4 linked regions of the Homo sapiens genome follow. The protein of the gene in region 1 interacts with the protein of each later gene in a biochemical or structural test. Each region holds a gene or a part of one and is shown in the gene's direction. Other genes may lie near its edges.

What was found.
Region 2: the proteins of GNAI2 (region 1) and RASA3 form a complex in vitro, tested with the Homo sapiens proteins (one study listed by BioGRID).
Region 3: the proteins of GNAI2 (region 1) and EYA2 form a complex in vitro, tested with the Homo sapiens proteins (one study listed by BioGRID).
Region 4: the proteins of GNAI2 (region 1) and RGS18 form a complex in vitro, tested with the Homo sapiens proteins (one study listed by BioGRID).

What each region holds. Positions count from the first base shown.
Region 1 is NC_000003.12:50,252,789-50,260,248, forward strand, and holds the end of GNAI2 (guanine nucleotide-binding protein G(i) subunit alpha-2), read left to right. Parts: intron 1-235; coding exon 236-396; intron 397-3,403; coding exon 3,404-3,532; intron 3,533-3,934; coding exon 3,935-4,064; intron 4,065-4,148; coding exon 4,149-4,302; intron 4,303-4,711; coding exon 4,712-4,902; 3' UTR 4,903-4,926; intron 4,927-5,579; 3' UTR 5,580-6,574; downstream 6,575-7,460. UniProt on the Homo sapiens protein: Guanine nucleotide-binding proteins (G proteins) are involved as modulators or transducers in various transmembrane signaling systems.
Region 2 is NC_000013.11:114,128,097-114,136,354, reverse strand, and holds the start of RASA3 (ras GTPase-activating protein 3), read left to right. Parts: upstream 1-3,731; 5' UTR 3,732-3,865; coding exon 3,866-3,920; intron 3,921-5,351; exon of another isoform or gene 5,352-8,258.
Region 3 is NC_000020.11:46,898,698-46,906,327, forward strand, and holds part of EYA2 (protein phosphatase EYA2), read left to right. Parts: intron 1-1,690; exon of another isoform or gene 1,691-2,568; intron 2,569-2,729; exon of another isoform or gene 2,730-3,051; intron 3,052-7,630. UniProt on the Homo sapiens protein: Functions both as protein phosphatase and as transcriptional coactivator for SIX1, and probably also for SIX2, SIX4 and SIX5.
Region 4 is NC_000001.11:192,154,814-192,163,155, forward strand, and holds the start of RGS18 (regulator of G-protein signaling 18), read left to right. Parts: upstream 1-3,648; 5' UTR 3,649-3,824; coding exon 3,825-3,943; intron 3,944-4,406; coding exon 4,407-4,508; intron 4,509-5,564; coding exon 5,565-5,626; intron 5,627-8,342. UniProt on the Homo sapiens protein: Inhibits signal transduction by increasing the GTPase activity of G protein alpha subunits thereby driving them into their inactive GDP-bound form. Binds to G(i) alpha-1, G(i) alpha-2, G(i) alpha-3 and G(q) alpha.

The sequences.
Region 1 (7,460 bases):
GGGAGGCAGAGGATGCAGTGAGCCAAGATCGCCCCATTGCACTCTAGCCTTGGTGACAGAGCTAGACTCCGTCACAGAAAAAAGTAAACAACAACAACAAAAAGGTTTTAGGGCAAGTCTCATCCTAGGGAATCCAAGAATACCCTAGCCTGGGCCCCATTCCAGAGGTCTCCCTGCCTCTGGCAGAGTGGGGGTACATTCCTTCAACTGCCTGACCACCCGCCACTGTGCCCAGGACGACGCCAGGCAGCTATTTGCACTGTCCTGCACCGCCGAGGAGCAAGGCGTGCTCCCTGATGACCTGTCCGGCGTCATCCGGAGGCTCTGGGCTGACCATGGTGTGCAGGCCTGCTTTGGCCGCTCAAGGGAATACCAGCTCAACGACTCAGCTGCCTAGTGAGTGCTCTGAGGGGCTGGGCAGGGCAGGGCAGGGGCTGGGGGAGGACTAAAGGCTGGACCGGAGGGCCTGAGAACCCCCAGAAGGACACTGCTGGTCTTTGCTTATGAAACCGATGACTGTTAACCAAGGCCTTCCTGTTTTTTGGTTTGGGGGGTGGGTGGGTGTCACGTTACTGAAAGGCCAGGAGGAATGACAGGCAGGTGGCTTATACAGTACATCTCTTCCAGGCCAGTTGAGTCTGATCTGTCTTGACAGTCTTCTAAAGAACATTTGCGGCCGGGCGTGGTGGCTCACGCCTGTAATCCCAGCACTTTGGGAGGCTGAGACAGGCGGGTCGTGAGATCAGGAGATCGAGACCATCCTGGCTAACACGGTGAAACCCCGTCTCTACTAAAAATACAAAAAATTAGCCGGGCGTGGTGGAGGGCGCCTGTAGTCCCAGCTACTCAGGAGGCTGAGGCAGGAGAATGGCGTGAACCTGGGAGGTGGAGCTTGCAGTGAGCGGAGATTGCGCCACTGCACTCTAGCTTGGGTGACAGAGCAAGACTCAGAACATTTGCTGCCACCTGTTCTGTGCCAGGCTTCAAGGACACAGTGATGAGTGGAGCAAAGTCCCCATGCAGTGACAATTTAGGGTGTTAGTGAAAAGGTAGAGGTGGAGTTGGCCCAGAGACAGGATTGCTGAGCTCTGAAGGAGAGTCAGCCAGGGGAGGAGTGGATGAGGGGATTCCAGGCAGGGGCATAGCATGTGCAGCATCTCGGGGTGGTGGGGAGCTGGCTGTGCTTGAACATAGGCTGTGGAGGCTGGCTGGAGGGGGCCACAGGGGAGGAAGTTATCTGGGAGGTGACAGGTGTGTGTGTAGGTCAGAGCCCCTGGACCTCAGCTGTGACCCTCGCTGGCCCTAGGCTGAGGAATTACAAGGGGTCCCAGGAATCCCAGAGGCATGACAAGCCTGCACCCTTTCCACAGTTCTGAACTCCTTCCCTGTGGTATCTGTCATGTACTTGGACTGGTGCAGGGTGCTGAGGACCCCACGGGGAACAGGATAGACAGGCTAATAGCCATTGAGGATGGCTGCAGGGGACATCCACAGGCTTTGGATGGTGTCACCAGATAGGCTGCTGTCCCTGTACTCTAGCCTTCCCCTATCTCTGCTTAAGCCAGTCCCCTCTGACTGGAACACCCTTTTGCTCCTATTGTTCATCCAATCCTGAGCCTACCCATAGGGTGGATTTCAGCAAGGGTGGGTGGGAGGAGGAGGAGGGTCTTGCCTGGCTGTGATTCCTGAGCCCTGTCCAAGCCACATGAACAGCCTCCTCCTACCCTTCTTACATGGCCTGAATGCTCTTGTGAATATGTACCCCCTACAGGAGCTGTGGAGTCACAGCCAAATGCTGTGGGGGCCCCCAGGCCTCACCACTGCCCCTCCCTGAGATCTCTGGCCCAGCCACCAGCGAGCTTGGGGTCAGAGCAGCAGGGACCTTGGTGCCCATGATACTCAAAGGAAGCAGGAATAGAGCCACCTCCAGGCCACCTCCTGCTTCTCCATCATCCTCTTTCTCTATTCTCCAGACATTAGGCACCCACTGTGTGCCCAGCACAGTTTTGGGAGTGAATACAGGCCCTGTTCTCCCAGTCAGGTTTAAGCCTTGATAGCTCCCCCTGGGAATGGGTTGCGGATTGGAACACCACAGGAAGCAGGGCTCCTTCAGCCCCTCTTCGCAGCAACCCTCCAAGTGTGCAGCGAGTCAGGGGGTCCCTGGGGCGAACCCACCTGTTGGGGAAAAGGGAGAGGCTGGTGTGGAATGCACCATGGTACCTCCACATTGAGGACTCTGGCAGTAGGGGGCGGGGCATGGTATGCGGGTCACAGCACATGCGTCATCCTTCCCCATGGCCCTTCCTGTTTTTCTGTTTTGTCCCTGCTACTCTGAGATCATTTCCCTCTGGCCTGGTTTGGCCTGGGTGCTGGTGGGAGCCAAGGGCCAGCCCCAGCAGCCTTGCCCCAGGAATGAAAAGTCAGCTCTGGGCAGCAGCCTGGAGGCCTGGGACCAGCCTCCAGGGCATGGCAGGGATATTGAGGCAGGCAGCAGAGGCAGGCCCTGCAGGGGTAGCCTTGATACTAATTAAGGGAACTGGTAATGAGGAGCCCCTGGGACCCCTGCCAAGCAGGTGTCTGTGCCCTCCCCCTGAGGAACCCAGATTTCATTGGGCGCTGGGCAAAGAGCCCACTGGACCTGGCAGGCCCCAACCTGTCCAGCACCACATCGAGGGACCGCACCCGGCTGCTCTGCGGCTAATGCCGTAATTGCGCCCATTAGCATCCTGAATCCTTCACCGAAGGACTAATTTGCCTCCTCCCACCCTCTTTGCCTATAGCTCCAACATCCTGGATCCTGTCCGAGGCAGGTCTGGCTCAGACCCTGGGTGCTGGAGCTTGGCTGGCTAGCTGTCCACAGAGCTGCACCTCCTCCCATTCCCATTCTACAGGTGGGAGGCCGGGGGCTCTGAGTTCAGGTTTCTTCATTTGAGCAATGAGGTAATGCAGGCAGGGGTTAAAGAAACAAGGGCTGTGCCTAGGCCAGGCGCAGTGGCTCACGCCTGTAATCCCAGCACTCTGGGAGGCCGAGGTGGGCGGATCACCTGAGGTTGAGAGGTCAAGACCATCCTGGCCAACATGGTGAAACCCCGTCTCTACTAAAAATACAAAAATTAGCTGGGCGGCAGGCGCCTGTAGTCCCAGCTACTCAGGAGGCTGAGGCAGGAGAATCGCTTGAACCTGGCAGGCAGAGGTTGCAGTGAGCCAAGATCATGCCACTGCACTCCAGCCTGGCAACAGAGTAACACTCTGTCTCAAAAAAAAAAAAAAAAAAAAAAAAAAAAAGCAAGGGCTGTGCTTGAGAAATGGCATGGGAGGGAAGGGGCCTCTTGCAGCTGGCCCAGGGTCCAGCTAAGGAAGCCCCATGCTGGCCCCCACTGACCCTCCCACCCCCCATCCCCAGCTACCTGAACGACCTGGAGCGTATTGCACAGAGTGACTACATCCCCACACAGCAAGATGTGCTACGGACCCGCGTAAAGACCACGGGGATCGTGGAGACACACTTCACCTTCAAGGACCTACACTTCAAGTGAGCGAGCATGTGGACAGGTGGGAGGGGCAGGACCTGCCAGCCTCTGGGGTAGCAGAGGCAGGGGCTGGTCCAGGATCCCCCAGCCCCACTGAGGTTTTACAAGGCTCATGTGTTCTGGGCAAGCACATCCTCACCACCTAGTGAACCAGCAGTCAGGATCCACGCCACCTCTGCCAGCTGCTCACAGCCTCTGCTGCTCCTGCCTGATGTGGCTGCAGCCTGCCTGCTGTCCAAGCTCCTGGCCCAGAACCAGGGGTGAAGTGGGCAAGTGTGGATGATTCCAGAAGGTAGCTGCCCTACTCTGGGCAGGCCTCTGTCCTCAGTCAGCCAACCTGAGAAATGGGGTAGAAAGCCTCCCCCAGGCTCCCTTCCTGGAACTAAGGTGATCTATATCTGCAGGATGTTTGATGTGGGTGGTCAGCGGTCTGAGCGGAAGAAGTGGATCCACTGCTTTGAGGGCGTCACAGCCATCATCTTCTGCGTAGCCTTGAGCGCCTATGACTTGGTGCTAGCTGAGGACGAGGAGATGGTGAGAGGATGAGAGAATGCTGCGGGTGGGGGCAGCGGGCTTGGGGAGTGGTGGCTAGCGTTGACCTTGCTATTCTACCCCCAGAACCGCATGCATGAGAGCATGAAGCTATTCGATAGCATCTGCAACAACAAGTGGTTCACAGACACGTCCATCATCCTCTTCCTCAACAAGAAGGACCTGTTTGAGGAGAAGATCACACACAGTCCCCTGACCATCTGCTTCCCTGAGTACACAGGTGTGGGGACTGTGGGGATAGGGCCTCCAGAGGGTTGCTTCTTGTCCCAAGTAGCCTATGGTGACCAGGTGGCCCTCAGGCGCCCCCCACTGGACAGAAGTGTAACCTTGGAACACTGGCAGGGGCTGGTGCCTCACTTAGGCTTGTATAGTTGTGTGTGCACACATGAAGCCCTTAACACACTCAAGCATGTACCCCTGAACATGTGTACATGGGCATCCTCCTTCACACAGTGGGGTACCCCTTTGCACATCTGGCATGTATGGGCAGCCACAAACATTGTCATATTATGCACATGCATGCACAGGTTGTATGCCTGGCCGTCCACACGCACAGACCCTTGCTGCACACGTAGGATGCGGCCTGCCTGCCACACATGCAGCACAAGTCTTCATTTTCTCTCCCCCAGGGGCCAACAAATATGATGAGGCAGCCAGCTACATCCAGAGTAAGTTTGAGGACCTGAATAAGCGCAAAGACACCAAGGAGATCTACACGCACTTCACGTGCGCCACCGACACCAAGAACGTGCAGTTCGTGTTTGACGCCGTCACCGATGTCATCATCAAGAACAACCTGAAGGACTGCGGCCTCTTCTGAGGGGCAGCGGGGCCTGGCGGGATGGTGAGCCAGAGGGGCTGTGGCAGGGTGCTGGGGAAGAACTAAGCGGGCCTGGAGCCCCAGCAGGGGGTTCTGGGGGTGGGTAGGGGGGTGAACCTGGAGGGGGAGGGGCAATAGGTGACCAGGGGACAAGGGAGGAGAAGGCCCAGGGTGTGAATCAGGAGGTCAAGTGAGTGAGGTGCAGGGCATGGAGGAGGTCATACAAGCAGGCCTGGCCCAGTGGTCCAGACAGAAGGGCCTGGCCTTGCCCTGGGACAGAACCAGAGGCCATCCTGATGTTCCCTGGAGAAATCTCACCTCCTCACCCACCAGGCCATTGGCCCAGCCTGCCGGAAGCTGCATGCCAGCGGAGCCCAGCCCTGCTGCCCACTACCACCAGCTCCATGTGCACCTCCAGCTCTTGCCCTCTGACTTGTCTGAGCGTCCCGGGCTTAGGCTGGCCCCACTGGCCCTGGTGGAGGTGGGGATGACTCTCCCAGTGCCACAGACTCCCCTCCCCCACGTAACCCAGCAACAGAAACTGGCTCCTGGGCGGCAACTGTGTCCCTGGTAACAAATGGGTAGGAAAAATAGAGAAGGGTCATTGTCTAGGGAGGCGGGAGAGAGGCACGCCCTGGCTGCTTCCCGATCCATGCTCTGCTTTCCCCCACCTCCAGGGCCACCGCCGACTTTGTACCCCCCAACCCCTGAGGAAGATGGGGGCAAGAAGATCACGCTCCCCGCCTGTTCCCCCGCCGCTTTTCTCCTCTTTCCTCTCTTTGTTCTCAGCTCCCCCTGTCCCCTCAGCTCCAGACGTAGGGGAGGGGTTGCCACAGGCCTCCCTGTTTGAAGCCTGCCCTTGTCTGAGATGCTGGTAATGGCCATGGTACCCCCTTCTGGGCATCTGTTCTGGTTTTTAACCATTGTCTTGTTCTGTGATGAGGGGAGGGGGGCACATGCTGAGTCTCCCAAGGCTGCGTCTGGAGGGGCCCCTGCTTCTCCAGCCTGGACCCCCAGCTTTGCCCAACACCAGCCCCTGCCCCAGCCCAAGTCCAAATGTTTACAGGGAGCCTCCTGCCCAGTCCCCCAACCCCAGCCGCTCGGAGGCCCCAAAGGAAAAAGCACAAGAAGCGTGAGACGCCACCATTCCTGGAAACCACAGTCCACCTGCTCATTCTCGTAGCTTTTTAAAAAAATGAAAGTAAAGGAAAAAAAAAAAACTGCAAATCTAGAAAACTTTTTAGAGAAAAACTATTTAAAACTGTCAGATCCTGACCAGCAAGCCCCCCCCCAGCCCCCCTTCCAAGTGACTCCGTGCCTTGAGTGTGTCTGCGTGTTTACACCCGTCCCTCTGCTGGCCGCCCCCGTGCGAGCGGCACCCCTGCCCTGCCCTCCACAGAATTGGGTTCCAAGGGCTGTTCCAGACAACTGCCAACGTCACTGAGGGCCCTGCCCCAGCGGCCCTGGCCCCAGGCTCTATTAACCTAAAATGTAGCTCCCTAGCGCTAACCTAGGAACCGCCGCTGCCTGCTGGGGGGCCACGCCCCTCATGCCCTTGTCCCAGGCCCGGGGCCTTCAGCGTTGAACACTTCCTTGCTTTTTTCACATGTTTTATGGAATTGTTCACCTGGTTTGAAATAATAAAATGTAGAAAGAAAAAAAATACCGAGAACTGATGGGTATTCTCTCCCAGGGGCAGAGGCCTGGGCTAAGGTGTGCCAAGGTGATGGTGGTCCTAACCTCAGTCCTCAACCTGAGTCAGGGCCCTGACTCAGCTTTCCGGGCCGTCCTGGAGCCCCACGCTCTGAGCTTCATTTCTCCCACCTGGACTAGGCAGCATACATGTGGGGCCCGTGTGTCCCCGCCCTTCCAGTACTCTGCAGCCTTGGGTCTCGGGCAGCTGGGCAGGCTTCTAAGGGAGCTGTTGTAAGGTGCTCTTCCACACCTGGAGCAGGAGGGGTGGCCGGCCTCTCTAGCGCGGAAGGAGAAAGTGACTTCCGACTTAGGTACCAAGGCCTGAGAGTGTCCGTTGCCAAGGCCACACAGCCAGGTGGGCCGCATGCAGTCCTGGCTTGACTAAAAAGGCCAGTAGGGGCCTTAAGACATATTCAGAAAGTTCCCTGCCCCAGAGGGCCGCCGCCAAACCTGAAGGGTAGTGACAGGTGGCCATACTACCATGTGATGGTTGCCCCAGGCTGGGCCTGGAGAGCTGCAGATCATTGACTCTGAAGATGGAAGGCTCCATGAGGCTGTGGGAAGGGCCCGCGCGTTTCTGGGGAAGGGAATTGCAGATGGCAAGGCTGGTGATGCTTGTGGGGCGGGCCCTGAGTGCCATCGAGGCGCCTGGACCTTCTCCCGGGGGCAGCCGCGGCCTGAACGTGTGGGGGCGGGCTCGCGGAAAGGCTGGCCTCGACTGGGTGGGGCTCCGGCGTTGGCGCATCCGCCTCCGGCCGCCAGGGGGCGCCGCCGCCCGTGCTCTGCCCTGCCTGGCTGGTCACAGAGGCTGACGTCAGCGGGTCCCGCGGAGGCCGCTGGACACAAAGGCAGCTTTGTGAGGC
Region 2 (8,258 bases), on another chromosome or scaffold:
AACGAATGACCAAATCCTTCATTTAGAACACAAATGTGAGAAGGCCGGTGCTTGGGCAGCTCTGCGGGGCTGTGTTTTGTTGCGGGAGCCCTGGATGTATGCTCAGCCCCTGTGCCTCTCAGAGGGCTGGGGGCCCCACATACAGATACCTTGCTCCGATGTGCCTGGATAAGCACTGAGGGTGGGTTTTAGGGACCGACTGGGGAGAGATGCACGTGGGGTCTGAGTCGACCGTCTGTGGGGCACTCTGGTCATGCCCAGCATCCATTTGTGCAGCACAAACTTTTTCTCTGGGACTGTCCGCCCCCCAGGTTCTTGTGGTATCGTAAAGACGACCACAGTTTCGAGATGTAGGAGTGAAATGGACCGAGGCTAACCCAGTGAAGTTTGCGGCTGGGTTAAGGAGTGAGTCAGGGAGATGCGTGTTTTCTCCATCATGACTGGGAGAGGAGTGCTCATTTGCCGGGAGGTGAGGGTGACTGTGCACCTCAGCCGCCAGCAGGAGCACCAGAGAAGCCCTGCTCCAGCCCTGCTGACGTCTGGGCCTGGGCCACCAGCCGGTGCAGTGAGCCTGGACCCCAGGAGTGCCTTTTCCAATCCTGACAGACAGCTGCTTAATGTGGGACATTGCTTTACTTTACGAGTTGAAAACGCCACCCTAGCAGCACGGAGCACCTCCCAGGGGCTAAACCCTGTATCATGACTGAATGCGCCCATGTCAATGAATTCTAACATCTAACTCTACATTCTGCCTCCCCTGAATCCAACGTTCTTTGGATCTAGTTCTGCATTTACCCCTGGCTCATGCTGGTGCATGCATTTTGGTCCTGAAGCTCCTTGGCCGACTGTCTCTTCCTCAGTTTTTAGCCTCAGCACTTCTCCAGCTTGATGATGCTGACCTGGAGGAGCTGAGCTGGAGGTGGGTGGCAGGCGTGTCGCCTTGCAGAGGTCTCTGCAGTGTCTTCAAGCACAGAAACAGCATTTGTCCTTAACAGACAGAAATGTGACACCTCTTCAGGCCCAGCAGATTTAGAGGAATCTGGGATTCAAGATTTTTGAGTGCATTCATTCAGATGGCCCCATCGCAAGCCTCTCTTCTTCCCAGTCAGGGCCTCTCTTCTTCCCAGTCAGGGTCCAGAGCTTGGAACAGCACCTTCCGAGGCCGAGCACCCGAACCTGGAACAACACCTTCTGAGGCCAAGCACCTGGCCTTCTCTGGAGCTCTGCCTTCTACACGGTTAAGTCCTGGCCCTGATCCAGTGTTTTGGTTTTCCTCTGGTCACAGGAGATGAGTGTCTTATGTGGCACTGAGGAGGCCCGTTAGCGTGCCACCCTTTTGTTTCAGGTGGTGATCTTTTCATTATCTTGCCCTCAACACGAGCCACCTGATTCCATAGTCCATGTATCTGTGACTTTCCCGAACTCTCCAGCACCCGAGATCCTGCCGCTGCCAGTGCATTTCCTTCCAAGGGGCTCCCGTCCTGGCTGCCACTGCTGCAGTCTGGAGATTCACTCCTGACCCCAGCTGTCGCCTGGAAACAAACACCAAAGCGAGATCCGCGTTGAGTTTATCAGCAGGCCTGTGAGGGTGGAGGGATGGCAGAGAAGCAGCTTTGTGGCTGGGCTGCCACAGAGGACTCCACTGGTCCTCGGAGAAACACAGGAGCCGGCTTGCTTCCAGTGGCTCCAAACGGAAGCATAGTCTCCGTCGTAAAGCAGGGGTGTGGATGGCGTCCACAGCACCCACTGCAGACGCCACCCAGGGCCAGCGCTAGACGCAGAGGCTCTGGGTTGGAACCAGGGGTGCCGCCTTAACCTCCTGTTCTGCCCCAGTGAGCACCAGGCTTGCAAGGGCTGAGGATGAGAGAGGCCCCTGTGGCTGCAGGCTCCCAGCAGTCAGGGGAAGAAAGGCCATTCATTCTTTCAACGCATGGAACTGCTTTTTAGGAAGTGAAGGTAAGCAGTGGAAAAAAATAGGCCTCTATCTTCATGAAGCTCCTGTTCCTCTCCATGCAGTGTGTGTGTGTTTGTGTATGTTCACGTAGGTGTGTGTATGTATGTTTAGTGTGTATGTCTGTGCATGTGTATGGGTAGTATATGTGTGTGCTGTCTGTGTTGTGTGTATATGAACATATGTGTTCATGTGTATATGTGGTGTGTGTATGTAGGGTGTGTGTATATGTGTGTATATGTATGTGTGTACACGTGTGTAGTATGTGTGTGGTGTCTGTGTGTGGTGTCTATGTGTATGTATATGTATATGTAGTGTATGTGTGGTATATGTATGTGTGTATATATGTGTAGGGTGTGTGTGTGGCACTGGGTGCAATGAAGTTTTGCAACATAGAGGAGGGAGTGTAGTCTCAGTTCATATACACACCTACAGTTCATACACACACACAAACATACTCCTCAGAGAGGAGGTCAGGGAGGAGGAGACCTCGAGACAGAAGAAAGGGAGGTAAGGGTGGTACCTGCCCATGCTGGGGTCTGCAGGGGGACTGGGGGGGGACCTGCCCATGCCGGGGTCTGCAGGGGGACTTGGGGGGGGACCTGCCCATGCTGGGGTCTGCAAGGGGACTTGGGGGGGGACCTGCCCATGCCGGGGTCTGCAGGGGGACTTGGGGGGGGGACCTGCTCATGCCGGGGTCTGCAGGGGGACTGGGGGGGGACCTGCTCATGCCGGGGTCTGCAGGGGGACTGGGGGGGGACCTGCCCATGCCGGGGTCTGCAGGGGAACTGGGGGGGGACCTGCCCATGCCGGGGTCTGCAGGGGGACTTGGGGGGGGGACCTGCCCATGCCGGGGTCTGCAGGGGGACTGGGGGGGGACCTGCCCATGCCGGGGTCTGCAGGGGACTGGGGGGGGACCTGCCCATGCTGGGGTCTGCAGGGGGACTTGGGGGGGGGACCTGCTCATGCTGGGGTCTGCAGGGGGACTGGGGGGGGACCTGCTCATGCTGGGGTCTGCAGGGGGACTGGGTGGGGGAGACCTGCCGGTGCCGGGGTCTGCAGGGGGACTGGGGGGGGACCTGCCCGTGCCGGGGTCTGCAGGGGGACTGGGGGGGGACCTGCCCATGCCGGGGTCTGCAGGGGGACTGGGGGGGACCTGCCCATGCCGGGGTCTGCAGGGGGACTGGGGGGGGAGACCTGCCCATGCCGGGGTCTGCAGGGGGACTGGGGGGGGGAGACCTGCCCATGCCGGGGTCTGCAGGGGGACTGGGGGGGGGGAGACCTGCCCATGCTGGGGTCTGCAGGGGGACTTGGGGGGGGGACCTGCCCATGCCGGAGGTCTGGGGTGGGGGGCTGTGTGTGCGTGTATGTGTCCCCGCCCCCCTCGTGCGTCTGCAGCAGGTGCCTTCGGATCGCATCTCAGGAGCTGGGGCTGGGCGCGGGATTCCTCCCCTGCCAGATCGTTGTACGTGAACTTCTCTTGGCAAAGTTCGTCCGCGAGTCAATCGCTCAGCCTCGCTCAGCGGGCCCGGGCCGCGCCGGCGACCTTCCTTCGTCTCTTCCGCCAGGCAGCCCGCTGGGGTCCCTTCCGCTCAGCGGCCAATCCGCGGGGCGGGGGCGGGGGCCGAGGCCTCGGGGGAAGCCGATCCCTGCGCCCCCCGGGTCTCCGCCACCCGCCAGCGCCGTCCCTGCCAACCCCGCCCCTGCAGGGCCCGGGCCAGTTGGGAGCAGGGGCCGGGCCGCGGGCGGAGCCTCCCGGTCCCCGCCCTCGCCCTCGGCCAACTGGCGGTCTTGCAGGCGGGCGGACCCTCGGCCGCGCTCGGGGCTCCGGCGCCGCCGCTCCTCCTGCTCGGCCTGAGCTGCCCGGGCTCGGCGCGCGCTTGGGGCGAGGCTCGGCGGGCGCGGACGCGCAGCATGGCGGTGGAGGACGAGGGGCTCCGGGTCTTCCAGAGCGTGAAGATCAAGATCGGTGAGTGTCCGCCGGCAGCCACGCGTCCGACCCCCCGGCCCGACCCTGTCCTCTCCCGCGCCCGCCTCCCCTCCGCAGATCCTTGCTGGGGACCCCGGCGGAGACGCCCTCCAGGCGCGGCGCGCTCCCCGGAGAACGGCTGGTCCGGCTCCGCGGCCCCTCCCCACCTCCCCGCCTCCCCGGGCCTCGGGCTGGGTCGAGTCGGCTCCGGGGTAACGCGGCTCCCTGCGCCTCCTCTGCGCCCGGAGCGGCCCCGGTCCCTGGTAGCGGCGGAGGAGGTGGGGTCCCTGCGCCGAGGGACGTCTGTCCGCGTGTGCGCCCGAGCGTGTGCCCCGCGTGTTTGCAGGAGTGCGCGCGCCTGAGGCTGTCTGGGCGCCTGCACTTCAGGTGTCAAATCCACTGACGTCGGGGTCTCGGCATCTCCCTTTCTCCGCTGCGCCCAGAAACTTCCTTTCCGGGGAATGTGGAGGCTCCTTCACGCTTCTCCCCAGGGGCGTGAGGCCCCGGCGCGCTGCTGCTGCTGTGCGCGCGCGTCTGTGCCTGCGTGCGCGCGTGTTTGTGTGTGCTTGTGTTTGTGTGTCCATGTGTGGGCGGTGTGTGTGCGCGTGCGTTTGTGGGTGCATGTGTGGGTGCGTATTTGTGTGTGGATGCATGTGTGCGCGCGTGTGTATTTGTGTGTGGGCGCGTGTGTGTGCGCGCGTTTGTGTGTGTGCATGTGTGCGTGTGTGCTGGTGGGGCGTTCTGGCTGAGGGCTCCCGCGGGGCGGGGAGACCCCGGACCCATCGGCACCACGTCCCTTTCCACTGAGAAGTGGCGGGCGAGCTGGTGGCGACCAGGGCCTGCGAGGCTGCGGTTTTTCTCTGGGCTTCAGCAGCTTCTGAAGTGGGCTCCCGGAGGCGTTTCCGGAGAGGAGGCTGTGTCTGGACTTCTGGTTTATCTGGAGGGATCTGCTTTTCCCTGGTTGTTTTATCTTGGGAGAGTGATGTGGAAGTCCTCCCCCTCCCCCAGAGCAAGACCGTTTCCTGGAGTGACTGTTCCATATTCATGCCATGAGTGTGCTGGACCACAGCGCGGTTCAGGCTGGAGAGGCTTCCAGGGCCTGCAGTGTCGCGGTCCCCACGGTCCTTCTCCCCCACTGAGCCGCACTTCGCAGCCGGCCTCTTCCCGTGTGAAGAGGCCTCCGGGAACGGGCTGAGTGTCAGTTGTTGATGACATTTGATGCTGCCGGAGGCATTCCAGCTCCCCTAAACCAGCGGGCTGTTTCCTGTCGGCTTTATTTTGGTTTGCGGATCATCGCTGAGACACTGTCTTGATATTTGGCCCAGAAGCGCTGCAGCTAGGATGTGGCAGCACTTCCGCTTTGAGTAGTCCAGAGAGGAGGGATTTCTTTTGTTAATGTGGTTTAAATCCGCTGTCACTTTCATACAAGAAAGCCAGAGCTGGCGCTCCCTGAAGTGCCTGAGGTCGCCTTGCCTGGGTGGGGAAAGGTCGCGGCCCGTGGGGGTCAGTTTGCTGCTCTTTCCTTCAGCCAAGGCTGCTTGGCTCAGCCAGCGAGTCTGAGGAGTGTGAGAAGCACTGGGCTTCCTCAGTCACGGGGGCAGGAGGGCTGGAGGTGGGTGCCCCTGTGGGGCAGTGCCAGGTCTCCAGGCAGCAGGCAGAGGCGGCCTGGGGCTTTGCGGCTCGGGGGTGGGGGGCCCACAGCCGGCACAGCATGCTCGCTGTGTACTCCAGGAAGGGCTACACTTCAGGCCACGGCAGGACTTTACAGAAGGCATGGGAAGTAGAACAGGAGGGCGAGGGAAGACCAGAGTCTCAGACCAGATACTCAGACCCTGAGTCTCCCAGAAGGCAGCTTCACCGGCCTGCGGGCACTCGGCCCCACTTCCGACAGGCGTGGGGGTCAGGCACCCTGGAGGATCCCTCGGAGAGAAGGAGGTTTGGAGATGCCACAACTTGGTCAGGCTCTGTGCTCCACTTTAAACAAGCCAGTGAAACCCTGGCTCAGCTGAGGCTTAGGCTGCTAATCCCACGTGGGGCCTGGATATCATCTGAACCTTTGACCCTCCCAGGGGCAGCAGCAGTGAGGACGGGTAGAGAGGCCCAAATGCCAGCTGCCCGACTCTCTGGATGTGGCTCCAGCAAGAAGTCCCCGTTTCCTCTCCCCTCCAGAGGTCACCTGCAGGGCTGGCTGCCTGAGGGGTATCTGTGCCCCAAGTAGCTGGGGAGACAGGGCACCTCCTGCATTTGAGCAGAGATGCAGTCTGGGCTGGAGACCCTGAGGGTGACCTGTGGGTGCGCTGGTTTGGGGTTAGTCTCATGTAACTGTGCTGCTGGCCTGATACCCCGGGGCTCCAGCAGAAAGCCCATCTGTAGAAGCGAAGTGGAGGATGACCCTGAGCGGCGCTGGTGCCAGGGGGCCACTGAGCCCCTCAGGCTCTTTCTTTAATCCACATTCATGGCCAACCTTGGCTCTGACTTGCCCTGCCTGAGTCCCTGGTCTTGAAGGCTCAGACAAGATGGTGCCCCTGTGGTTGATTTGAGGGCCCCTCGCTGTCATTCACCTCTGAGCCTTGTCTCCAGGAGCGCTGGATTTGCCCATGAGTCTGCCAGTGACTTGCTGCATGACCCAGGGCCCGTGTCTTCCCCTTCATAACCTCATTTTTCCGTTTGCAAAAGCCAGGCAATTATTGTCTACTACATCCGGTGGGAACGTACAAGGCAGTGTTGTTCAGGGTTAAGTTAACACCCTGCCCCCTCACTCCCAGAACAAGAATTGTCCCTAAAGTTATACCATAAGCAATTCTGCTACTACTCTTACTAAGAAAAAAAGCCAGCACATTTCTGGGGGGATTGGGAGCTTTTTTTAAGGTATAGGGGCATTGGCCATTTAAATTCTTAAATAGCTTTGAAATGTGTGGTGGTGTGTGGCCTCATTCAGACGTTGACATTGGGAAAAATGGAAAGAATCTCTTCCTCCTTTCCCCCTTCCTCTTTCTTTGTCCTTCCAGCTCTTGCAGGTGAGGTAATAAGAGGAGAGCGCCACGTAGAAGTGAGGTGCTTTGGTGGTAACAATTTGGAGTCTTTGTCTTGAAGAATCTGGCTTTCTGCATTTCAGTTTTGTGGAATCATTTTGGATATGTCCTTCTGTGCACTTAAACATCTTAAACACTGTGTCTTTTGAAACAGTCATTAACCTTTCACAGTAGAGTCTGTGTATCATGCATGACTGAGCCACACTTCCTATGCGATCGCTGCTTTGAGGAAGCCTGTGCTTCGGACTTTCCATGAGTCAGGGACCCACAGGGAGGGCACTTCCGCCACGGCCACGGCGTTGTTTTGGGGCCCCCGCCCCCAAGGCGTGCAGTGCCTCCTCCCCTCGCAGTGATGTCTTCCGTTTCCACAATACTTACTGCTTGTTTTTAAATGTGGCGCCTTATCTTGATACATGTGTTCAATAAAGAGCAACACACAAGGTGTTTCTCTCAATCTGTTACAGAAAAAAAAAAAGCCAGCCCCGCGGTCCAGGGCGGGAAAGGCTCTCGCACCGCGGTGACCCTGCCGTCGAGCTGGAGGCGGTCAGCGTCCGGGAATGCCGTCCGTGGGAGGCCGGGCCTGCCGTGGGCTCCCCGCTGGGGCTTCCTGTGGCTCTCTGGTCGCTCCCTTCTTTCTCCTCTGGGCTCAGTGCCTGTGGCTCCGCTGGGCTCTTGCTCCCTTCCTGTGAGGCTGGAGCTTGTCCGTGAAGAAGACCCACGGCCGGTCTGGCCCAACATTGAACCGCTGGTGCCTGCAGGCCTGTGGGGCAGTGAGGGCCAGGGGCTGCCGGCCTCCAGCCCCAGCTATCCCTCTCCTGATCACAAACAGAATCCCACCTGAAGCAGGAGGAGGTGGCACCGGGTGAGAATAGGGAGAATGACAAGTGGGGTGCCTGGAGGGTCCCCTGGACTGTGCCTCCCTGGCCCCAGCTCCTGGGCTAGAAGGTAAGGGCTCCGGGCCCAGCTCTGCTAGAAGTGGCAGCTGACACTCTCAGCCTGATGGACTCCCTCACGGGAGGTGGAGGCCGCTGGTCACAGGGCTGTTACAGGCATCAAATTAGGTGATGGTCTGTTTAATAAGAGAAAGTAGCAACAGTGTCTTCAGAGGGCTAGGGCTCACTCAGGTAAGAGAAGTGTTTTGTGAAGGTGAGGGAGGGATACTGGCCACGCCGTGGCTTTCCCCGTGTCTGTCTGACAGTGTAAGGAGGGGCTGTGTGGCCACACATGGGCCTTGGCATCAGAGATCCTAGATTCCCCTAATGCTAAAATTAACTTGGATATTTTATTAACCGAGCTCAGCTAAGCT
Region 3 (7,630 bases), on another chromosome or scaffold:
TCAGGTGGTAAATACTTGAAGTGACAGTAACTGAGGCTGCAGACCCACTTGTGTTATTGTAAATGAATCAGAGGGGCAAGACCTTGTTCTTTACGGCGTGTGATTTAAAATCAGTTTTAAGGTACCTGCCAGGTGTATTTAGAGGAAAAGGCATGAAGGAAGCCACAGGCTTATACATTCATTTTTAGTGCATATTTCTTTTTGTTCATTTTCATCCTATTGAGTTCCTTTGTCATTTCTCTGACTTGCAAATTATACCCTTCTGTTTAATAGTAATGATGAAAATAGCTGCTGTTTATTGAGAACTGGTATACCAGGCCTGCAGTCAGCTCTTCACGTGTATTTTTAAAGTGGATTCTTGCCGCAACCCCTTGAGTATTATTATCATTATTTCAACTTTGTTAACAAGGAAACTGAGTCGCAGGTCAAATGACCGACACAGGGCCAGACTGAGTGAAAATGAAATCTACGCTTTTGCTTCTCTGCAAAGTATGCCTTATCCATGTGCAATACAAGCTTTGGCTCAAAACATTTCTGCTATCATTTCCTTTGGAGGAAGATGCTGAATTTGGATGGTTTTAAATGCACAGAACACAGTTATTTTCTGAACCTGCCCTGACGTTTTTTGCCACTGTCGTTTGAAATGGGGAAACAAAATCATATTAAATATTCAGGAACACAAATACAAACCTCTGTGAGCCATGACCCTTAACCGGTTGGGTATGGTTCTGTAAAGGAAAATGACGGTTTATTTAAGGGCTAATTTGATTTATTCCTTCGATACTAACACTACGCATTTCAGGTCCTAAAAAGAGTCAATAAATTTACCGGCAGTGGAGAGGCCCTAAAACATTACGGTAGGCGCAGCCCAAGTCAAGTTTACCGGAAGGTGCTGGATCGCTATGGGTGGGTGTTGTTTCGGGTTAGATTTTAAACATTTGGAGAGCAAAGAATAATTTGGAACAGGTGGTGCCGAGAGTCAGGTAGCTGGAATGATTTATCTTTGCCTCTTTGAACGTTAAGGGAGGCCACTGGTTGCCTGAATCTGGAACCAGCAGGCTGCGGGTCAGTGGGGGCTGAGAGACTCGTCTTTGGGACAAACTTTGGCAGGATCCAGGGGCTTCGTCAGCGCTGTCATCGCCTTTGGATGATAGTAGTCAGAACACAGTTGTGCCTGCTCGTGCATTTTTGAAAAGTCTGCCTCTGCCTTCAGATATATGCAGAAATCTAAAACAGGAACTTAGACGCGCCGCAATGCCAATTTAAACATCTTTAAAAATGAACAAAGTATGTAATAGAGGTTAGAAACTCTTTTGTCATTTGGTATCAATAGTGTTGTGTCAGTAACATGAAAATGTGTGTAATTTCAATGGCATTGCACTTTCTTCTTCTTTTTTCCTTTTGAGTATCTAGTAAAGTTACATTTTTTAAAAGTCTGTGTTCCCAGATGTAATAGATACGAACGTATCTACTTGCAGTCATTCAGAGGAGAATTGTCAACTCTCTGCTAATGTAACTAAAGGAAAAATGATAAAATCAACATATTTTTCCCCAAAGAATGAGGAACTGGAGGGTTTGACTACTGTATATGGCAACTTACTTTTGTCTCGCGTCAGCTAAATCTGTCAGTTCCCCTTTCTTTTCTATTCATCTCCCAAGAATGGCCTTTCATAACTGAAATACACGTGTATTAGCCAAAAGACATTTTAATTTTGTAAAGAAAAATCATGCCAGAGACAGCCGGGTCTGTTTCAACCATTATTGTTTCTGCAGCATGCATACTTTGGGTTTCATGGTAAGATGTGGGTTTGTCAAGAAAGAAAATTACAGCAAGAAGCTATGCTGAAAACATATACACTTCTGTTTAAGAAATGAGAAAAACACAGAAAAATTCCACACAGTAATTGCTTTTACGTGAGTTTTAAATGTCATTGTTTGACTTATGTCAAAAAGCCCCCTTAGCCAGTTCTCTCATACTCCGTTACCAAATATCTCACCTTAAAAACAGCAAATGTTGGACTTCATTTTGATGATCTTTGAGGCTTTCAGAGATATCCTTAGTCCTAGTGGAAACATTCCAAATTTTTAGATTGTGCAGGCCATTTTTTTAAGGTTACTTAGATATCGATTTTATTTTCTTGACCCAAAATGAGAAAACACGGGGAATTCTCAAAAGCTTTTTACAGGCTGCTATTACGAGAAGAGAAGCCAAACCAACATGTATTAGGTCATGCGCTTGAAGTGCATAAATAAGCCCTATGAAGGTCACCAAACAGGGTGAAAACCACTAGTTCTCGTTACCTTGGCCACCTCTAAATTCCTGCCTGTTAGACGTGTTTGGTTGAAGTGGACACAGAAAGCGGGTTTCCGAGCCCGTGGTTGAAAGATCTCAATTTGACTTGGGTCCTCAAGGCGTCCTTGTGGTAAAGGGAGATAGGAAGGCTGAAATTCTGGTCTCCTCCCCATGGCTCCCTCTCACGGTTCCGGAGAAAAAGCAGGTACTGGGGCCTTCTCTTACTCCAAAGCAGATGTTTCCTACCTGGTATTCGGATATGCGGAAGTCAGAAGCTGAAAATAAAATGAAATGAAAATGTTCCTTCTGGTCAGTTTCTTCACCTCCCATTCCCTTCCTATAGTCACTTTGTGGTTAAGGTATTCATGGTTTCCAAAACAATTTTTTGTTCCCACTATGTTTTCTAGCATTTAAGATGCAAGGTATAAGTACTCACCTTTAAATCTCTATTGATTGGCAGCTTCCTGAAATACAGAGTCAGAGAGCGTGTCCACCACGTCCTGAGTTTGGTACCAACCCAGGTGCTGATGGAAATTCCAAGTAGGGAGAAAACGTCCTCTTCGGAGAGGCAGGGTGTCAGCGCAAAGAGGTTATTTTCTTTTGTGGGTGTGTATTATTTGCACATATCAGGACTTTTGTTTCAGGGTGTTCTAGAAACATTGATCTCTCCAGCAAAGTTCTGCGTGTCCTTCTTGGTTGGGAAGGGAGCGGAGAGGAAGGAGCCCCGAGGAGAATCGTGCACCTTTGGCCTTTTGTGTGACTCCTAGAGTAGAGGGAAGCCTCCGCTGCTCGGAAGGTGTCACGTGGTATAACAAGTTGTGACTTGTGCCTGTGTTGTCAACAGAGTTTTAGCCCCGTCCAGACATGAAAAAGAATGGAGCCCCGAAGATGATTCACCTCCGGTCTGCGATGGGCCCAAGCTGTCCAGTGCTCTCCTCTTGCTAAACAGACCATACTCCCTGGAGGAGTTAATGGCTGGGGTGTGGAGAGAAGACCGGTAGGAGGGGAGAAAGAATGCCTTAAACTCAGCAAATGTCTAAAACGCTCAAAATGTCTCAGCATTGCTCAGGCACCCACAAGAAAGACAAACTGATAAAAGGACATAGAATCAGGCTTTTTTTGAGGGGGAAGCACAGAGAGGTTGGGGGTTTGCTAGAGGTTTGATCTAGAGTGGACAATTTTTCTAACACCTTGGGACCCGATTTTGGAAATGTCTTCCTGTAGCCTTGCTGTCATTCCTTTGTGCTTATTTTTAGTGAATTAGTTTTGGGGATTTTCTTTTGTTTTTAAGAAAACACAGAGTTGTAAGACTTGTTTGGGAATCACAGGTTTTATTGAACACTTATTATTTATTGAATATTTATTATGTCCCAGGCATTGTGCTGTGGAAATACTTTATATGTTTTGTCTCCAAATGGCAGTAGATGGAACGTGCTGTTATTATTATTTCTATTTTACAGATGTGGAAACTGAGTCTGGAGAGTAACTTGTCCAGGATCACATGGCTTATGCCAGAGCCAGGATTAAACCCAGTTTTGATTCCTAACCACTAGGATGTCCAGCCTGCTCCCGTGGTATAACAAGAACTTCCCTTTCTCCATCTGTCTGCCCTGGAGAGCTAGATTTTAAAGTCCTTTTCCACTTGCATTGCCTTATGGATATTTATCGATGGTTAGGTACAAAAATCAGGTTGAGAAAGTAAGAGACGCCAGCAGATTCTCACAAGATTTTGAATCTGCCCTTGTAGAAATGAATGAATGTTTCAAGCTGGACCTATGGAAATGGTCGTAGCATCACTGCAGTTAGTGGCCTAAGTCATTGCTTACAGCTGCTCTTGCCCTATAACCGCAGGGTTGAACAGCCGTACTACAAAGACCATACGGCCTGCAAAGACTATCTGGCCCTTTACAGAAAAAGTTTGCTGACCTCTAAGCTATTGCAATATGACAAGACAATCCTTGTAGACCAGAAATAACATGCACTTGGGACATTTCGTATACCATTTCAATGATTTATTATTTATCAGGTGCCTCCAATGTGCTTGACACATTGCACAGTGATAGGGGAAAATTACAAGTGACTTCATTCCTTCATCCATTTACTTAACAACACTTATTTAGCTGTGTTCTGGGCTGTTTACTGGAGAGCCAGAGGTGAGAAGGACCAAATCCAGCATCTCCGGTAGGAGGATCCCAATGTGTTCTCACCAGTATCCCATGGCCTCTTCTTTCCTGAGGGTGCAGAGGGTGTTGACATGACTTTTTGAGCTTTCTAATGTTTGAGCAGCAGAATGGAAGCAACACCTCAGTCTGTAGACCCTCACCCACAGAAGCTATGCCTGGTTCAGTAAGAGCAGTGCCTCGGCTTCTGCACCTGAAACCGCACTAGGCATATAGGACTTACCAGTGCCCCAGGCTTACTCGGCCGACAGCAACTCTCTGCTTCCCTCAATGCGTTGTGCAGAATGAGGAGGAATGTAGAGAATCAGACTTTCCAAACCTCAGCCTGGGTACTGACTTTCAGCCTCGAGATTAAGAGCTTGAGTCCAGGAGCCAGGCTGCTCAGGTTACACTTCCCCTCAGTGTTAACCTACTCCTGCGTTTAACTTGGGGGTAAGTTACCAGACTTTTCGGTGCCTCAGTTTCTTCGTCTGTAAAGCAGGGTGAATAATAATGCACCTTCCTCAGAAAGCTATCGTGGAGATTGAGTTAATAAACATGAAGTGTTTGGAACTACGGCTGGCAAGTGGTATGAATTATATCAGTGTCAGCTACAGTTATTATTATTATTTATGAATTTGACCTGAAGCAAATTACTTAGACTCTTTGGGATGATAATAATAATAGTAACAACAATAATAAAATAACTTTTCATAGTGCCATTGTGAGAATATAAATGAGGCGATACATGGAAAACACTTAGCTTTGCTACACTGCCTGCCTCCATTCAATGTTCAATGAGCTAGCTATTGAGATTATGGGGAACAGTGCACTGGATCAGTGCGGTGTCTATAAGCTATTGATCAGTTGAGTCATTTTAGGTATCGAGAGAATGTTGGGCAGTGGTCGATAGCACAGGCCCTGGACTCAGACAGATCTGGCCTGAGCCTGAGTCAGTCCATCACTCACGGACTGCCATCTCCAGCAGGGGTCTGACCCTCTCAACGTCCCAGACATCGGAGACAGCAGTTAACTGTTCCTGGGGTGGTTGGGAGGCTTAAAAGAGTGGCTGGCACACCGAGCACAGAGCAGGGTGTTTGGCACATAGTAAGCACTCAATAAATGGTAGCTTGTATTATTACCACCCCCATTTCTTGCTGTACCCCCACCCCCAAGAAAGCACTGAACATTAGTAAATTTTAATTTGAAAATAAAAGAACACATTTTAAAACTGCCAAACAGATTTAAAATAATATTCATTACACAAAATTAAAATATTCTATTAAAGCCAGACTTTGGGCTCAGACCAAATTTTTATAACCCAAGCTTAAAGGCCAGGGAGTCCCCCAGCCACAATGGGGACATTGTGATTGAACTTGAGACTTCAACGCTGCTATTGAGCAGTCTTTGAAATGCATGTTTCCCCTAAAATAAAAGGGAAGTAATGGGAAGGAAAAAAATGAGGTTCTTGCTCCCCTCAACAAGCCTTAATGAATTGGAAAAGAAAAACAAAATATTTCTCATTTTTCTCCTGCTACTCGATCCTGCCAAAGACGCACGGCCCCTCCCAACCCTGGCTTTGAATGGTGCCCACTCAGAACCTTCCAGATCTGATATGCTATATGAGCAAACCTAATCTAAGTTGTAACATTGTAGTCTTCACCAGGTTTTACAGATGGCGGATTGTATCACTGGGAATCCAGAATGGGGAGCCCAAATTCCTAGGTTCAAGTCCTAGTTCTGCCTCAGTTTCCCTATTCACAAAATAGAGACAGTCCTCCTACTGCATAAAGTGGTGGTGGGAGTCTGAACGGTTAGCTCTCCCCATGGATGTTTTAATCTTCTGCTGTTACCTAATGAATGAAACTTGCCCTGAGTTCTGGGACTTTGAAAAATTAAAGTATACAGGTATGCCTCTGAGAGTTATAAATTAAAAAAAAGTCTATTCAGGGAGGAGAATGGAGGAGGGAAGAAGGAGACATAAAAATGGCTCACAGGAGTTATTATGTGACAGACACTTTCACAAAGCTCATTTAATCCTCTCAAAAAAAAAAAATACATGATATACATGTGTCCATTTAACAAACATGGAAACTGAGACTTGGACAGATCGAGTGACTGCCCAGCGGCATTCCATTCCAGGTCTGTGTGACCCAAAGCATGGGCCTGTTGTACCACATGACCCACAGCCCTCCTGGAACAAGGTCACAAACAATCATGGTGGACTGGAGAGACTCCCCTGACCAACCAGTTATTTATGATCTATTCTTACATTTCAATAGCATCCTTCATCCTCAATGAGCCTGAGTTGCTGTGGCCTTTTACCCCACATTCCATTGAGAACCAGTAGATTTTTTCTTGAACAGCACATGGAAAAAGTAACGTAAGTGGGTTGCAAAATCCTTTTCTGGATGAAATCCTTCAAGAATCCCTGCCATTTCTTGCCAACCGGAATGAAGTGACTTCCTCCTCAGACCAGGCCAGGCCCTTGGCTATGGTGTGGGACCATGAGACAGAGTTGTCTGAGGCTGGGCAGCTCCTGGAGAGGGTATGGGGTCCCCTCTATCACCAACCTGCTGTGTGTCTTCGGGCAGATCACAAGAGCCCTCTGAGCCCCAATCTCCTCATCAGCCCATGGAGCAGACACCTTCTATATAGGATTTGTTATACGACTTAAATAAAATGACAGTGGAATACTTAGGGTACTGTGGAATTGGACCCATTCCCAGGAGTACTCAAAGAAAGGGGAGAAAATGAAAGTTACTTGCCCCAGGCACATTCCTTACTGTTCTTCAGGTAGCTACCGTTTGGGGACTTTAGACATTCTGGAAGAATCTGTTAGTCTCTGAAGGGCAGACTTCTTTTTAATGATGTGGGCACCCTTTCCACATTAACTTGAAATGTACATGGACATTTTTTTTCTTTAGAGTTCTGTCTCTATCTTATTATGCATTTGGAAAAGATATAAAAAGCATTTGAAACAAATGGTTTTACAATTTTTTACTGCTTAAGACAAAAATGATTTAAAAACCAAGTCCATCAAGTAATTGATAGCAAAAGTGGCACACAGCCATGGCAGAGTTCATGAGGGAAGTTTCAGAAACACGAATCTGATGATGTGAAGCTTTCCCTGTGATCTATTCATTTAAAATAAAACATTTTAGTTTTAAAACTCATC
Region 4 (8,342 bases), on another chromosome or scaffold:
ATTAGAGATTTAAGAATCATTATACCTTAGTAATTAAAACTACCCTAGATCCAGTATAACAAATTTAAACACAGGTCTTTAAGACGGAGGTGATACACAATTGATTGTTGGCTAAGACCAACTTCATCATCATTAAATGGAGAATGAAAGAATCCTGAATATTTACATCATAAAATTCAAAATGCCCAACATCCAATAAAAAGTTACTAGAGATCTGAAGAAGCAGGAAAATACGCCATCATTAGCAGAAAAATCAGTCAATAATAGCAGACCCAGAATTACAGAGATGCATTTTCAGAACAGGCTTCAAAACAGCTATTATAAATATTTTTAAGTATTTGAATATAAAACCAACAAGAATATAATAAGGAAGGAAATGCAAACTATAAAAATGGAACTTATGTAGCTGAAATGAATATTTTACTATACAAGTTTAACAGCAGACTAGCTATTGGAGAAGAAGAGGTTAATGAACTTGAAGACACAGCAATTGAAGCAGTCTAACCTGAGAAAGGGACAGAAAAGAGGCCAAAAAAATGGAATAGTTCCTTAATGACCAGTGGAACCGTGTTAAGGAGTCAAACATACTGTAATTGGAATATCTGAAGATAGGAGAAAGAGAAACAAAAAAATGGAGAACTAGTGCCTAAAAGTTTTCAACTTTGATAAAAACTAAAGCCCACAAGACCAGGAAGCTCAACAAATTTCAAGTAGAACAAACACCATTTATATCTTAATCAAAGTTTTAAAACTAGTTATAAAAACGTTTGAAAAGTAGTCACAGGAGAAGAAAGACATATTAGAACATAGAAAACTGGCACTGATTTCTCAACAGAAATAATGGAGTTCAGAAGACAAAAGTGTAAAATCTTTTAAAGTCCTAAAGAAAAGAAAAATCATCCTATAATTCTTTCTGGTGAAAATATTCTCCAACGGAAGATGGGGAAAAAGACACTTTTTTCATATGTTATATATTTGAAAATTGTTCATAAAATCATATATTTTGTTTTCTCACCATAAAACAATAAGCACGTGAGATAATACATATGTTAAATTGCTTGATTTAGCCGTTTCATAATATAAACAAAAAAAAATTTTTCTCAGAAAATCAGTACTTGAATATATTTATTGTTAGCAGATATGCACTACAGAAAATATTGAAGACAGGTCTTTATGCTAATGGAAAAGGATTCCAGGCCTGCACAAAGGAGTGAAGAGAGCTAGAAAAGGGAAACACGTGGGTATATATATATACACACACACACACACATATATATATAAATCCTTATCATTAAAAGTATACATATTTAAATAATAACTGACCATGCCCAAAAGAATGATATTTAACTGATGTCACCTTCAGAATCCACCTTTTTCTTCCTCTCTGGTTCCAGCTCCTAACTGACCACATACGCAGAGTAGAGCCAAACCTCTCTTTTCCAATTCTGTTTCAGAACTTTACACAGACCTGTGGAGTAGTTCACTTATGCCCATATTTTCTTTTCTTTTTCTTTTTATTTTTTTGTGAGGGGGATGGAGTCTTACTCTGTCGCCCAGGCTGGAGTGCAGTGGCATGATCTCGGCTCACTGCAACCTCTGACTCCCGGGTTGAAGCAATTCTCTGCCTCAGCCTCCCCAGTAGCTGGGATTACAGGCACCTGCCTCCACGCCTGGATAATTTTTGTATTTTTAGTAGAGATGGGGTTTCACCATCTTGGCCAGGCTGGTCTTGAACTTCTGACCTCATGATCCACCTGCCTCAGCCTCCCAAAGTGCTGGGATTACAGGTATGAGCCACCGTGCCCGGCAACTTGTGCCCGTATTTTCACAATTTCTTTTTCCACGGTTCTATCAGCATTGTGTATAGCACACTTCACACATAAATTTAACATATCTTATGAAAAATAATATATTGATTTTATGTCTTTAACTTCTCTGAGTTAACAGTTAAGTTATAGTCCTAGTGACTGGATGATGTCCATGCTCCTATGATTTTCTCTTGTGCTCATTCACCTTCATAGGATTAAACTGATATAAACACAGTGGATACTAATCATTACTAGGGGACAGCAGGGTGGAAGCATAATCTGCATTATCAGTATCCATTTCCAGCAGAAGCTCAATGCAAAATGCCATCATACATAATATTTTTCAATTCTCAGCCAAGGTGAGAGATTTAAAATATGTTCAAAGTACAAGTCATGGAATCAGGGGGTATATGTATAAATATATACTAGAAAGTCTTTAATTTCATATAGATAAATGTTTTGAGCTTTTAGCTGGTATCCCTGATAAATTGTCTTGGTAAAAAAATAATTCAAAAAGACTGAAAATAAAATTTTCTTTTAGGTTTGTATAACTCAGCTTTCAATATATACCATTTTAGATTAAAGCATTCACTACTGGAGATCAAAGATTCTTGGAAGGACTAAAGCACATAGTAGGTGATCAAAGGCTCTGATAATTCCAGATTTTCCACTGGCCTGTCTCTGAAACTTTGTAGGATTAAATTACCTAATGCCTGTGAACTTTGGTTTATTTTTCAATAAAATTTGAATTATGGACTAGAACTGCATTTGTAAGACTTTTGTATTCTATAAAACAGTGAAAGAAGTGGAGGCTAAACCAATTGGAGTTGTCAACATTTTTTTTAATAAAGGCATTAAAATATAAAAACTACCATCTCTACTTAATCCATGTCATTATAAAGAACATTTTTACATTATAAAGAACATTTTAACAACAAAAGAGTCAGGAGAGCAAATTCAAAATAGCAAGTCCTTTATATCAAAGGAATTAAAATAAAGCTTTAAGAAAAAAAACTTTTCATATTTTTTTCCATTTCATCACAGACTGATAAAAATTTCAAAAATGTCTAAAATCATTCTATAGATATGTGCTTAAAACTTTATTTATTTATTTGAGACAGAGTCTTGCTCCGTTGCCCAGGCTGAAGTGAAGTAGCCGGCATGATCTCAGCTCACTGCAACCTCCGACTCCCAGGTTCAAGGGATTCTCCTGGCTCTGCCTCCTGAGTAGCTGGGACTGTAGGTGCACACCACCGTGCCTGGGTAATTTTTTGTATTTTTAGTAGAGATGGGGTCTCACCATGTTGCCCAGGCTGGTCTTGAACTCCTGAGCTCAGGTAATCTGCCCACCTTAGCCTCCAGATTACAGGCATGAGTTACTGTGCCCAGCCCAAAACTGTTAAATTAAATGCTTTCTACAATCTTTTTTTAACCATAAAATTCTGATCTATTGTCTTATTTTGTTACAATATGTTAAGCCAATGTAATTAACATTACATAATCTTATGTCAGTTAAATGTGATTTACTTAACTCATGTAATAACAATAAGAAAAATACTTTTTTAAGAACTGGAGAAAATATCTCCTAATGTTTGATATAATACTTTGCCATAACACATTTTAACACACAGTCCACACATTTAAAAACTTTTTGAAAAGTTCCTGTGGGAAATGACAGTGTTATTTGAGTCTATTAAAGCATCATTCTGGTTGCGCAAACTTGAACGAGAAGTTGCACTGTGGTAAGACTAGTCTTTATCTTAGAGACCAAGAGTCATTTTGCAAATTTGTGGTATCATTTCCCTAAACAACTTAGGACCAAATTGTACTTCATTTCCTCAGTTCTGCATTTCTGCAGAGACAGAAAGAAACGCAGCTCTTGACTTCTTTTTTGTAAACATTACTGTAAGAGTTGTGATAACTTTTTATTCTACTATGTATATGTATGGAATAGTATTAATAAATGAACTAGGGAAGGATGTAATAAATTAGACATCTCTTCATTTTAGAGAGAAGATGGAAACAACATTGCTTTTCTTTTCTCAAATAAATATGTGTGAATCAAAAGAAAAAACTTTTTTCAAGTTAATACATGGTTCAGGAAAAGAAGAAACAAGCAAAGAAGCCAAAATCAGGTAAAATTGTACAATTTTAAGTCAGCCTTATACTTTTAAAAGCATAATTGAGGTTGAAGATTCATTACCTCTTGTTTTTGAACTATTGGGTGGAAAATATATTGTTTGTATTGCTATAATTTGGGAAAAAAAAACACCTTTTTATTTCTTAGGTTTAAACAACAAACTGAAATCTAAAGTGTTCTCATTAAAAAAAAAGTGTAATAATGTTAGCCACATAGAGGAACTAGTGCAATCTTTATTGAAATATAATCTCAAATACTTGATTGTCGGTGAGCAAAAGGAGAAACATTTTCGTATGTTACCCTAATTCCTCCACAAATACAATATTTAAATGGGATTCATGAGTGTGTGGGTATGGGTGGGCGTGGGTTTTTACCAACTACAAAATTTTCTGGTAGTCAGCAGGAGAGATTTTAACTGTCATCTAAATTGTCCTGACATGAAGGCCTTTTTATTACAGAGCTAAGGAAAAAAGAAATAGACTAAGTCTTCTTGTGCAGAAACCTGAGTTTCATGAAGACACCCGCTCCAGTAGATCTGGGCACTTGGCCAAAGAAACAAGGTGAATAAATTTTCAGTATTTTGAGGAAGATTTTGCTGATTCTATCATTAAAGATTTAAGAAAAATGCAGTTAGGGATTTCTGATTTATTGAAAATTACACAGCAATATAAGGAAAGTTAGAAATTTCATTTGAAGAGACTAGAAATATTTCATAAAATTAAATCACTTGAATTAAATCGCTTGAATTGAATAATCACGTGAACACTTAAAGCTGCTCTTTTAAAATTATATACCTGTCAGTTTTAAATGACATGTTTTACTCCTTATAACCTGATAAAATGCTCATTAATTTAAGAGTTTTCACAATGCAATATTGTCATAGCAGAGAGATATTCATCTCTTTCTTCAGTAGTTTGAAAAAACACACGCATTATAGCAAGTAAAGCACAAATAATGTCTTTTAATACTTAGCATTTATTTAATTCAAAAAGAAAATGCAAAAACCTTATATACTAGTTTCATACAAATTCTTCCAAATTAGAGTATAATAAAAAAGATCCGAGAAAATATATTCAATTCTCCACATTACCAACATCTCTAGAATATTTTTTCTATTAAAATATCTTATATTTCTTATCCCTTTGAAACTTTATTAGTCAAACTTCCTGTATCCGTTTAAAAAAAAAATTTGCAGCCTAGTGTGGTTACAGCTTCAAGGAAATTGCAGTATAATTTTTTTTTAACTGAAAGATACTGTGAGTTTAGTTTTTTTCTACTTGCTGAATTTAAACAGATAGTTGACCTGATTTCTTTATATTTGTTATCTGTGCCCTTTAACCTAAAAAAGGATTAATTTTTAATTAAAAAATAAAACTCACATATCCATGAGAAAAAAAATAATGTTATTTCAACACATTATTCAACAGACAAATTCCAAAAGAAAATTGAACAATGTTTTCAAAGTTTCTAATGTAAATGCAATTTTCATTATATTATAATCAAAGGAGAAACTGTGAAATATAATTGAAAAGAGCAGTAAAATAGCATATGTTAGAACAGATTCATAAACAGACTTTCTGCACACTCCATTATAAAACATTTTGTTTCTTGTACAGAGTCTCCCCTGAAGAGGCAGTGAAATGGGGTGAATCATTTGACAAACTGCTTTCCCATAGAGGTTAGTGGTACTTTCACCAAATACTTTGTGTGCTTAATGGAAAATTACACAAACTATGCATGTAATTATCCGAAACAATAGGTCACAAAATTTTTGTCTGATTGTTAATTTTCAGTAATTCAATTTTCTGATCAACAGAACTAAGTAATAGAAAAGTCAAATAATGGAAATTTTTTTAAAAGTTCTCATTTTGTTTAGAATTACCTACTGTGGATGAAATATTAGTTATTTATACTGTAGCTAGTTTCAGTTTTTAAATTTTTCCGATTTTTGAATGAAATCTTCGGTTTTATCAAATTCATGATTAACGAACTATTCATGTTAGTTTCATTGTTCAAGGATTAAAAATATCAAGTAATTCTTTCGATGGACATACAGGAAACCCACATAAACACAGTTTTTTTTGTTTGTTTGTTTTTGTTTTTTGTTTTGAGACGGAGTCTCGCTTTGTCGCCCAGGCTGGAGTGCAGTGGCGCCATCTCGGCTCACTGCAAGCTCCGCCTCCGTTCAGGCCATTCTCCTGCCTCAGCCTCCCGAGTAGCTGGGACTACAGGCTCCCGCCACCACGCCCGGCTAATTTTTTTGTATTTTTAGTAGAGACAGGGTTTCACCGTGTTAGCCAGGATGGTCTCAATCTGCTGACCTGGTGATCCACCCGTCTCAGCCTCCCAAAGTGCTGGGATTACAGGCGTGAACCACTGCGCCCCGCTCCATAAACACAGTTTTAAAAAAAATTTATAAATTCTTCATTCTGTACTTCATATCAATTGTCTATTTTTAAAGCAGAATTTTGTAGAAATGTTGAGAATCGAGTATGTATTTAAGGTGGAGCTTTGTCTGTGAGATGGAGGGTGAGGACAAGCATCAAGGCCTCATTTGACTCTGGAACACTGTTATAATATAGCATGGCTTAGGAGGCAGGCTCCCTGGATTGCCACTCTTTAGGGTCAATTTACATAAGGTAGCAAGTGAGTGAACTTTGTTGTCTGTATTCATTTTATGCTTTCTTTCAGATAGAAAGACTCAACTGAGCAGGTGATGCAGCTAGGTAATCACAGATTTATTATTCTCCACCCTGAACTTGTCAGAGTCTGCAAAAAAAGCAATGCTTTATCATTACCAAACATCCACCTCAAGCCCACAGCTTTTTTTTTTTGCACTTTAAACTTGTCCAGTTTCTCACCTTAGTCTTTGAAATACAATCATTTCCCAGCTCTTCCCAGACCCTTCCAAGATGAGGTTAGCCAGACTACTCTAACTACTCCTTGTAGCGTTGCCCGTGTCTTTCACAATTTTAAGGTGTCTACTGGAAGAAAGGATTCCTGTTGCCAGGACAGTTGGGAGTGGAATATTTGTAATTCACCCTCAAATACTATGCTCCATTTAATGTAACAACAACTTTTCTTTTCTGACATATTTTTGTTTTGTTTTGTTCCCTTCCTTAATTGTCCAACTCTTTATAAGGTCTTGGTGACCTTTTCATGTTCTTCTGAATTTAGTGATATAAAAATTCTATATCTGTAGATGATACCTGAAAACTTTCCCTCTGCCAATGAAAGTAGATGGCTGCCTCTGAACTGTAATATTTATAGGTAGAGAAATCAAGGCTTAAACTTAGTTAAGGATGTAATCAATGAGAATGGAGAGTTATGGTAAGAAAGTTTGTGCTGACAAAGTTTAACTTGTATTCCTTATATTTCACTCTAAGACTAGCTACTATCACTTCCTGTTTTTGGGAAAAGTAACTTAAACAGCCTTCCTCAACTACTGTACTCACTTTTCTTCATTTCCAGTATACGACAATTCATTTTTTGCTGTTTTTTGTTTGTTTTCTTTTTTGTTTTTTTGGTTTGTTTGTTGTTTTGTTTTGTTTTGTTTTTGTGTTTTGAGACAGAGTCTTGCTCTGTAGCCTAGGCTGGAGTGCACTGGCACAATCTCAGCTCATTGCAACCTCCACCTCTTGGGTTCAAGGGATTCTCCTGCCTCAGCCTCTGGAGTAGCTGGGATTACAGACACAGGCCACCACACCTGGCTAATTTTTGTATTTTTAGCATATTGGTCTCGAACACCTGACCTCAAGTGATCCACCCATCTAGGCCTCCCAAAGTGACGGGATTACAGGCGTGAGTCATCATGCCCAGCCCCAGTATACAACAATTTCTAAACTATTGTTAAAATTCTTGCCAAATCTATGTCAAACTTGCCCCGTACTCACTTTCTTGCTCCGATTGTTTTGGTTCAGTTTCAGATATGCTCTTTATAGATTAATTACAATAACTTGTGTAAAACTTGCTTCCATAATTCATGTCCCCCAAATGTGTTTATTTTAAAATCTCCTCTTATATTCAACATTTTGGTACTGCACTGCCCTTTAGACTCCTCACCAGTCAGAGAAGGAGAAAAGAAAACAAAACAACAACAACAAAAAAAGAGGACTGGGATTAATTTCTTTATAATATAAGTATTTATTAGAAGGAAACATACATCTTTTCATCTGTGGATTCCTAAACTTAGCACATCCCCTGGAAAAGAATATAACTGAATTTGTTTCTAGAAGTTAGTCCAGAGTTCCAGTGAAATTCGAGTTTTAGTTTTCTCCTAAAACATAAATGGTTGTATAATCTTAGTTAAGCTTCCTAATCACTCTGACTTTCAGCTTCCTCGACTGTAAATGAAGATAATGTTTTTAGCTCCAACAGAAATAGATTTCTGTCAG